Homo sapiens: one gene and its partner. The protein of the gene in region 1 purifies or fractionates together with the protein of each later gene. This does not show direct contact. Each region holds a gene or a part of one and is shown on either strand. Other genes may lie near its edges.

The links. The genes of interacting proteins can lie anywhere in the genome.
Region 2: the proteins of GPR156 (region 1) and ZMYM1 purify together in Homo sapiens (affinity purification with mass spectrometry; 2 studies listed by BioGRID and IntAct, with this or other methods). This does not show direct contact.

What each region holds. Positions count from the first base shown.
Region 1 is NC_000003.12:120,281,731-120,287,824, forward strand, and holds the start of GPR156 (probable G-protein coupled receptor 156), read right to left. Parts: upstream 3,493-6,094; 5' UTR 3,299-3,492; exon of another isoform or gene 3,154-3,298; intron 1-3,153. UniProt on the Homo sapiens protein: Orphan G-protein coupled receptor involved in the regulation of hair cell orientation in mechanosensory organs of the inner ear.
Region 2 is NC_000001.11:35,109,973-35,113,371, forward strand, and holds part of ZMYM1 (zinc finger MYM-type protein 1), read left to right. Parts: intron 1-321; coding exon 322-475; intron 476-1,799; coding exon 1,800-1,940; intron 1,941-2,114; coding exon 2,115-2,158; intron 2,159-3,004; coding exon 3,005-3,399.

The sequences.
Region 1 (6,094 bases):
CTTGCCATACTTCTCTCTGCATTGGTGGCACAAGGAAGATTTTCATATAAAGTAGAGAAGACTCAAGATGAGGCAGACCCTTTATAGGTTCACAGCAGCTTTGTTCAAAATTGCCACAAACTGGCAACAACCAAGTATCTATCAACAAGAGAACAGATAAACACATGGTCAATATTCATACAATAAATACTACCTTGGAAAAAAAAGAAATGAACTACTGATACACACAATGGCACAGATGAATATCACAGACATTGTGTAGGGCAAAAAGAAGCCAAACACAAGAGTGCATACTGTGTAACTGCAGTTATATGAAATTCAGGAACCAGCAACACTAATCTATGATATTAGAAATCAGAACAAGGTTTGCTGCTTCTGTGGGGTGGAGGTGACTAGAAAGAGACGTGAGGAAAAGTTCTGTGACTGAAATATTTTATGTCTTGTTTGGGATGTGGGTTTGTCAAAACTGGCCAGCTATTAGCATAGGATTCAGCTGAGAAGTGCTGTGAGGATAAAAGAGGCCACTGATCTCCAGGGTCATCATTTACCTATCAAATATTGATTAACTTGAATTATGAATTACCTCAAAGGACTTCTAGTATTTTACCAAGGGTTCTGCCACCCTTATGGGAGTCAATGCCTTATTTGTGTAATTTAGTTACCTAATTAATCCAACAGTTATTTATTAATTGCTCATAATATACCAAATAGGAACACAGCCATAAATAAGACAAAAAAATTCCTTGTCTTGATGGAGTTTACATTAGAGTGGGGAACATGCCCAATTAACAAGGAAACACATATACTATATAGTGTCAGGGAGTGCTAAGTGCCATGAAGAAGGATAAAGCAGGGTCAGAAGACAGGGAGTGACCACAGGCTGTTTTAGATCAGGTGGCCATCATTCTGGAGAGTATGAAAAGAAACTGGAATGAGCTGAGAAAAGAAGCAGTGGCAGTGTCTGAAGGAAGAGTGTTCAGGCAGAGGGAAGAGCAAGGACGATGGTAAGCAAGAGGACGGCCATAGAATATGAGGGCACCAGACCAAATCACAAGCCCTGGTGGAGAGTTGAATGTTATTCACAGTGTGAGGGGAAGCCATTGGAGGGTGTTAAGCAGGAGAGTAATATCATCCAACTGACTGACATTTTAAGAATGGGAAAAAGAAGGCAGTTAAGGGGTCTGCTCAAGATTCTTATGGGAAAGTCAGAAGAATAAGATCCATATTTTTTTCTTAAAATGTTAATATCCTTCACACATCTATATTTGAAACACCTTCTGATTCAAGCTCTGTCCAGGACCAGATCACATATGTCTGGATTCTAAACACTGATTTTTATTAACAAGTTTGTTTTAAGATAATAAGTTTATAAAATGAGAGGTAGAAAACATCTCTGTATGTCTAAAATTTTTCATAATAAAGTACTGGAGAAAAAAAGGTGAGATAGTGATTTGCATCCTTTATCAGGCAAAATTCATCAGCAACTAAACATGAATGTTCTGATTCTCAAGACCTTTGCAAAATAAAGGCTCTGATTTTTTTTTTTCAACTAAATGTAGAACATTTCTTTCAACCCCCAAATCCACCTTTGCAGCCCAAGTCAGTCCACGTTGCACTGTTTCTGCAGCATGTCAGAGCCTCTGGCTTCTTTCCTCTCTCCCCCTTCCCCCAATTAATCTCTGAAACCTACATAAGAATGGAATAAAATGCAAATTCAAGGAGAAGGATGCAGTTTTCAGAGAAGGCCTCATCCTCCTCCTACCCTATAATGGAAATTCCCTTATGGTTAAACAACAAAAATGGAAATATTAAAACCCTCAGCTGAAAACAAACACTTAAGCACCTATTCTCCTTTCCAGAGAATCTGTTTCCCTCAATCATTATTTTTCCACTCTTTTGAGAGCCTTCTAGGCTGAAAGTTGTTTCATCTCACCCATCTTGGGTCTCTCCTAGGTCTCATTTCTGCCTTCACCAGGCTTGAAGTTCTATATCCCTAGGCTATCAGAACTTTGACTCTGACCAGGCTCAATTCTAGACTTTACTGGGGAATGGGGAGAAGCTAAAAGCTGGGGGTGGAAGAGAAGGGGAAACAGAGGGAACATTCCAGAGACAGTAGTGTCCCTGAAGGGGAATTAGGCTGGCAAAATGGGGACCAGAAAGCCACCTCTATTCCTCACAAGGGACACCTAACTCAAGCACAGCCTGCTAAAGCACTTTATTCTCCAGACTCAAATTGCCTTAACCTGTAAGCAAACGCTTCCCCAGCCATTTATCCGCAAGCGCATTTGCCCCACCTGCAGCAATGAAAGAAGCACTGTTTTTGCAAGCCGGGCTGCTACCCAGACTGCGAGGAGACATTCTGTGCAGAATTCAGCCACTGGTGGAGAAAAAGAAGTTTTTCTTTGCAGGCCTTGCTGCCTAATACAACTATATCAACAATTTCTCCCGCTGTGTAAGCCCCATCTGAAAATCTTTCCCTTTTATCTAGGATGCAAAAATGTAATGTTATCCTCCATATTCTGGTTTAAAGAACTACACCAGGAAAGACATTTTATGATAGGCTAGGGCATCATTTACCTCTAATTCAAGCATGCATGTACCTAGAAAACTAACAAAGGGGTAAGTTATGCCATGCCATGACTTCTCTTCCCAGATTTCTATCCTGAAATCTTAACAAAATTCGATTTTAAAAACCTCAAGGTTTGTATTCTTCACGAGTACATGGATACCTTGAGTTCTACCTAGAGGCCTCTAGTTTCTGACAGAGCTAACTTGGAAAGGGCTGCTTGCCAGGGTACAAGGATGTTGCAGCTTCCAGGTGACTCCCTCATGCCCAGAAGCAAGGCAGTTCAACAGACGCAGTGCAATACAATTGTCCCTTTTCAGGACTTTGCAATCTCCATGGGGGAGCCCATCGTGCCCGCCACTCTACACCCTGGGGGTGAACATGCCCTGCAAAGCAGATTCGGCGTGAGGAGACTCTGGAAAGTCTACAGGCGGTGGGAAACTGTTTCGGGATCTCTCATTTTCAGCACAGCCGGTCGCTTATTCAGCAGAAAACCCACGGCCCCATCTTCACACCAAATTACAGTACTCTCCCGTCTCTTCCACTGAAATTGCCACTCGCATCCCTGATGCGTGACCCCTGCTCACCTCAAGTTCCTATGAGAGTTTCTTTACCGGTTCCAAACAAACTGCCCAGATTCTGGAAAGGGAGAGAAAGCCCCTCCCCCTTTCCACTTTCACTTAATAATTAAGTGTTTGAAGTTTTGTGGATCCTTAAGGTCGCTGTGCTCACCTCATCAGCGTCGGACCGCCGAGAAGCGCCAAGCCCGCTGCTATGTGCAGGACGCCCACGGTCCCCCGGCGTCTCGCGCGTTCGCGGGGCTGGAAGGGGCGGGAAGGGGCGGGCCGGGGCAGAGACAGGGGCCCGCGCCCATCGCCGCGCCGGGAGCCTGGCGTGGAGGCGGCGGGACGGCGGCGCAGGCCTCTGAGGTGTGCGCGGGGCGCCGGGCGCCTCTGGCCGGGGCACTGGCTGAGCCACGCCTGCCCGCCCCTCCCTGGCGCCGCCCGCGTGGCGCGCCTCGACCCTGCTCTCCCGCGAGGGCCGGGAGGGCTCCGGGACCTTGCAGACTCCACGCGCCTCACGGCTCCTCCAGCTCCTCGGATCTTTCTCCTTGCGTCGCCGCCGAGTCCCCTGGGGCGGCCCCGCCTCCGGCCGTCTCCTCAGAGACCTTCCCTGGGGGGCGCCTTCCCCTCAGCGCCCCTTCCCGGGCCTCGAGCCAGCGGCTGCCGCAGGAGCTGGCCCCGGGGCGAGGAGCTTCAGATTCAGGTCCCTAGCCGGCCTCGGTAAGGAGACTGGAAGGATTCTCCGCGAATGCTCATTTTTATTTCTGGAGTGGCGTCGGAGTTACCAATTAGTTTTCTTATTTTATACTCTCTGGAGTTGCCAAATTCTTTACGTTGAGCTTTTGCTTATTTTATAATCAGAAAGACAAGTACGTTTCTTTTTCCAAGAATGCTTACAGGAGGCCACAAACAAGATGTTCGCACCCAGCCCACTGTCTTCCGCTTAAAAATATGTGTGAGATGTTGTGTTTAAGACACCCTCAAGGAGAAACATAGAGGGGAGACCTGGAAATGGTCTTGGGAATCCACTTAGACTTTCCATATTATATTTGTTTCATTTATTTTAAAATCTCAGACCTATTTATGTGCATTAGGACATTCCACATTTTTACAACTGCGCAGAGGAAATCTTTGGTTGTAGAGGACGGGAAGAGAGAGGCCAGGTCCGCAGACCCCACTGTGACAAGACAGTGGCTACATTCTTAACTGTTTTACACATTGTGATACCCAAAGACTTCTTTTCACAGGATTCTACTGAGGGGGAAAACAAGAGGAAGAAAGAAAGATAGACAAGGTTTTCCTCAAGGCAGTAAGCAAAAAGCTGGTTTCTCAGAAGAAAGAATTATGTCTGAGATTTTACCCAGGACTCTCCAGATCTCTCATTCTACACAGAAGGACCCTTTCATTTGGAACGTGCAGAAACTGAGGAGGACCATCTCTCTCCTCCATGGGGGCTGCCTGAGTTAAAAAGGCCTGGGTCCATCTTTTTTCCGTAGGAGAGCTGACTTCAGAGTCTAGAGCCAAATCTTCACTTCTGTGGCTCTAGATTGAGGATTTGCCCTTCTGATCTCTGTGGGGCTTTTTTTTTTTAACCTGGGAATTCCCCTGGGCTCTTCGGCTGTTATTCTCATCAACCCCTCTCTATATTCTGCAAGACATTGAAATCTTTCTCCCAGCTTGGCCCCCACCTCCAATCCCAGTATTCTCTTTTCTGAGATTGGAGTATTTCCAACCCCTCAGTTGCCAGGCACTGAAGGTTTTCATCTTCCAGGCCTGCCATGTTTACCTCTGAGATGTTTCTGGCAACTGTCCACTTCTCTGCATTCTCACACTGCTGCTCTTGATAAGCTTCGATTATCTGGGGCTGAATTGTTTCAATAATTTCCTAACTGATTTTCTTGCCTCCTATCTGTCCCCACCACCAACATAGACTTAAGAATGTCACTCTCTTGACAAAACAAGCCAACATCCTCTATCCTCTGTCCCACTCCCAAACCTGCAGTAACTTTCCTGTGCAATTGTAATACAGTGTAAACTTTCATAAGGATGGGGAGTGGCCAAGATGGCTGACCAGAAGCAGGTAATGTACATGGCTCTCACGGAGAGGAACAGAAGGGACGAGTAGATACAACACCTTCAACTGAAACATCCGGGTACTCGCATTGGGATTAATCAAGGAAACAACCTGACCCACAGAGAACAAGGAAAAGCAAGACAGGACAACAGCCCACCTGGGAGCAACAGGGAACCAGGGGATCTTCCCCTGCCCAGGGAAGTGGTAAGTGAATGAGCGACCCCGGAAACCATGCTTCTCCCACAGATCTTTGCAACCCTCCTGTCAGGAGATCTCCTTGTGAATCCACTCCACTAGCAGCAGGGCCTTCAGTCTTCAGTCTGGCAGACAGGGCTACATGGAGTCTCAGCAAAGCAGCCACTCAGGCATGCGTGGAGACCCTGGAGGCTTAGATACTTGGGCGTTCTGGCAAAAGTAGCTGCATCTCCCACAAAGAGGGAGTTTAGACTCCCATTCATACCCCTAAGAAAGAGGCTGAATCCAGAGGGCTGAGCAGCAACAGCCCGCAGGGCCCACTTCCACAACACCTCACACAAGACAGGACCCACTGGCTTGGAATTCCACCCAGCTACCAGTAGCAACATAGCACCTGCCTAAGTAGGAGCTCCCAGGGGAGGGGTAGGCCAACATCTTTGCTGTTCAGGAGCTTTAGCTGTTCCAGCCTTCAGGGTTTGGAGAGTCTGAGACGACCTGGGGCGGTAAGGATGCCCCAGCACAGCACAGCTGCTCTACCAAAATGTGGCCAGACTGCTGCTTTAAGTGGGTGCCCAATCCCATTCCTACTCACTGGGTGTGACCTCCCAACCAGGGCCTCCAGCCACCCTGCCTGAGCTCTTCAGCTGTGACAGAGATCTGAATTCCCCCTGGGATGGCACTCTTAGAGGGAGGGAT
Region 2 (3,399 bases), on another chromosome or scaffold:
CCTGACCTCAGGTGATCTGCCTGCTTTGGCCTCCCAAAGTGCTGGGATTACATGCATGAGCCACTGCACCTGGCCTTACTGCTTTCATAGGTATTATTATTATTGCTGTTAAATATATCTGATAAATAATAAAAATCATTTTCAGATTTGCCAATATTCTTTTAGTTATTGCAATCTGTAGTGTCTTTTTAAGAAAATGTAAAAACTGTCTTAATTGTTATTCTTTTTAATATTCCAACTAAAAGCAGTGGTAATAGGTTCTTCTTCATTAACAACATATCATATACCAGGAATATGAATATTATTTTAATCTCTAAACAGAAACCTGCCAAACCACTTATATCTGTTCCTTGCAAACCATTGAAGCCCTCAGATGAAATGATTGAGACTACGAGTGATTTGGGGAAGACAGAGCTTTTCTGCTCTATTAATTGTTTCTCTGCATACAGTAAAGCTAAGATGGAATCTTCTTCAGGTAATGTTTGTTTAGCAATTGTAGGGGTTTAGTAATTATTAATAAATAATATTATTTGACTTTAATTTATAACCTTGATTCATTTTCAAATTAAACCGACTTTTAAAAGTCAAAACAATCTAAACTTGTTGCAAAGAACTGTTTTTCAGTATTTTTGTATAAAAGGAAGGCTACTTTACCACCAGAGATTTAATATTTGTAGGCCAAGCACGGTGGCTCATGCCTGTATTCCCAGCACTTTGGGAGGCCAAAGTGGGCAGATCGCCTGAGGTCAGGAGTTTGAGACCAGCCTGGGCAACATGTTGAAACCCCGTCTCTACTAAAAATACAAAAAAAATTAGCTGGGCGTGTTGGTGGGTCCCTGTAGTCCCAGCTACTTAGGAGGCTGAGACAGGAGAATCATTTGAACCTGGGTGGTGGAGGTTGCAGTGAGCCGAGATCGCACCATTGCACTCCAGTCTGGGTGACAGAGTGAGACTCCATCTCAAAAATAATAATAATAAAAATTAAAAGATACATGTCTTTTTTTAGATTATTTAGTAAATGAATATATGTATGTTTACATCAATATATATTGAGCACCTACTGCAAAACATGGTACATAGGAGGCACTTGGTCAATATAGAGTTTAATACATTTACAAGACTGCTTTTATTAGAATATAGAATGTTTTACTTAGCCCTGTTTTGTAAAAACAAGTTTTCATTACATTTTTCACATGAAATAGAAGTGATTGTAAATGCTTTAAGACTCAATAATAAAAAAGCACAAATAATCTGAGCCAACTAAGTATTCCATCAAAAAGCCTCATGTAGGACCAGTGGTGCTATTTACATAGACCATAGAGTGACTAATGCCTCTGGGATTTGTAAGTCATACAAACTGGCTTGTTACAGAAATTTCTGCAATAGTGGCTTGGGCACCAACCTAGCGCTCCATTGATGTTAAGGTTTATGAATCCTGGAAGAGTTTGAAATAGATGCCCATTAGGAGATTCAATCAGAATCTCTTTTCTTCATGAGTAATTTCACAGAAAAATTTGCTCATAATTTTAAACAAATTCTTTAAAAGGACTGGGAAATTGTGTACAAAGGTAAAAGACATAAAATGTTGGAGAAGTGTAAATTTTCAGTGTAATGTTGTAATTATAAATACGATACTAAAGAACCTGGCTATTCCTAAGCCCTAATAAAAATTACTTCAGTACCTACCAATTCCTTAAGCTATTAGATGCTTGCATTATTTCTTTAAACAGTATTACTAAACAGTACTTTCTGATGATTGATTTTGCCTTGTTTATAAGAAATCTTTTTATTGTTGTCAGTAAGTGTTGTTTCTGTGGTGCATGATACTTCAACAGAGCTTCTTTCTCCAAAGAAAGATACGACTCCAGTTATAAGCAATATAGTGTCATTGGCAGACACCGATGTTGCCTTGCCCATCATGAACACTGATGTCTTACAAGGTAAAAGTTGATGTTAAGATATTTGACATAAATATTGTTTTGTCATACTTGATAAATCTGTCTATATGCTAAATTTTCTTTTTGTTTCTTATATGAAATAAGCAAATATAGTTTATGATGCTATTTTATAGGTTATAGTATATAAGATCTTGAATTTATGCTCTATTTTAACAGATACAGTTTCTTCAGTAACAGCAACAGCAGATGTCATTGTGGATGTAAGTTTTAACTTTTTTTACCACTGTCTTTTTTTAATAAGCAGATTTTTGTTGTTGTTGTTGTTGAGACAGAGTCTCGCTCTGCCACCCAAGCTGGAGTGCAGTGGCGTGATCTCAGCTCACTGCAACCTTTGCCTCCTGGGTTCAAGCGATTCTCCTGCCTCAGCCTCCTGAGTAGCTGGGATTACCAGCGCCTGCTACCATGCCCAGTTAATTTTTGTATTTTTAGTAGAGAAGGGGTTTCACCATGTTGGCCAACCTGGTCTCGAACTGCTGGCCTCAGGTGATCCGCCCACCTTGGCCTCCCAAAGTGCTGGGATTACAGGCATGAGCCACCACACCTGGCCCAGATTTTTTATATATATATATAATATATACTATAATATATAAAAATATAAATATATAATATAAATATATTATAATATATTGTATATAATATAAATATATTATAATGTATATTTATTATATATTATATTTATATATTTAATATATATTTTATGTATTATGTATTCATATATGGGGTGTGTGTGTATGTTTGTAGATTGTTTAAACAGAAGTATTTTTTTCCTCTGGGTTCTTCTTTTAAAAAAATACTACACAATTTGAGTCATCTGAGCAATAAAAATTATTTTTATGACAATTACATACCAAAAGGTCCTTCAAACATTTAATGCTGAATCTAGATTGCAAATAAATAAGTTATACGTAATTGTTAACGTTTCCCCCTAGTGGAGCTCATACTGTAACTCAGCCATTTATTTTACTATGTTATTAGAGTAGATATATTTGATATTTTAATTAATTTTTGAAAACTGTTAAATGTTCTTTTCTCATTTTCTCCCAAAGCTTTCTAAGAGTTCACCTAGTGAACCCAGTAATGCTGTTGCTAGTAGTAGTACGGAACAGCCAAGCGTTTCACCATCTTCATCAGTATTCAGTCAGCATGCAATTGGTTCCAGTACAGAAGTACAAAAAGACAATATGAAATCTATGAAAATAAGTGATGAACTATGTCACCCAAAATGTACATCCAAAGTACAAAAAGTTAAAGGTAAATCACGAAGTATTAAAAAATCTTGTTGTGCAGATTTTGAGTGTTTGGAAAACAGTAAAAAAGATGTGGCATTCTGTTATTCATGCCAGTTGTTCTGCCAAAAATATTTTAGCTGTGGAAGAGAGTCATTTGCAACCCACGGAACTTCTAATTGGAAAAAAACCCTGGAAAAATTCAGAAAGCATGA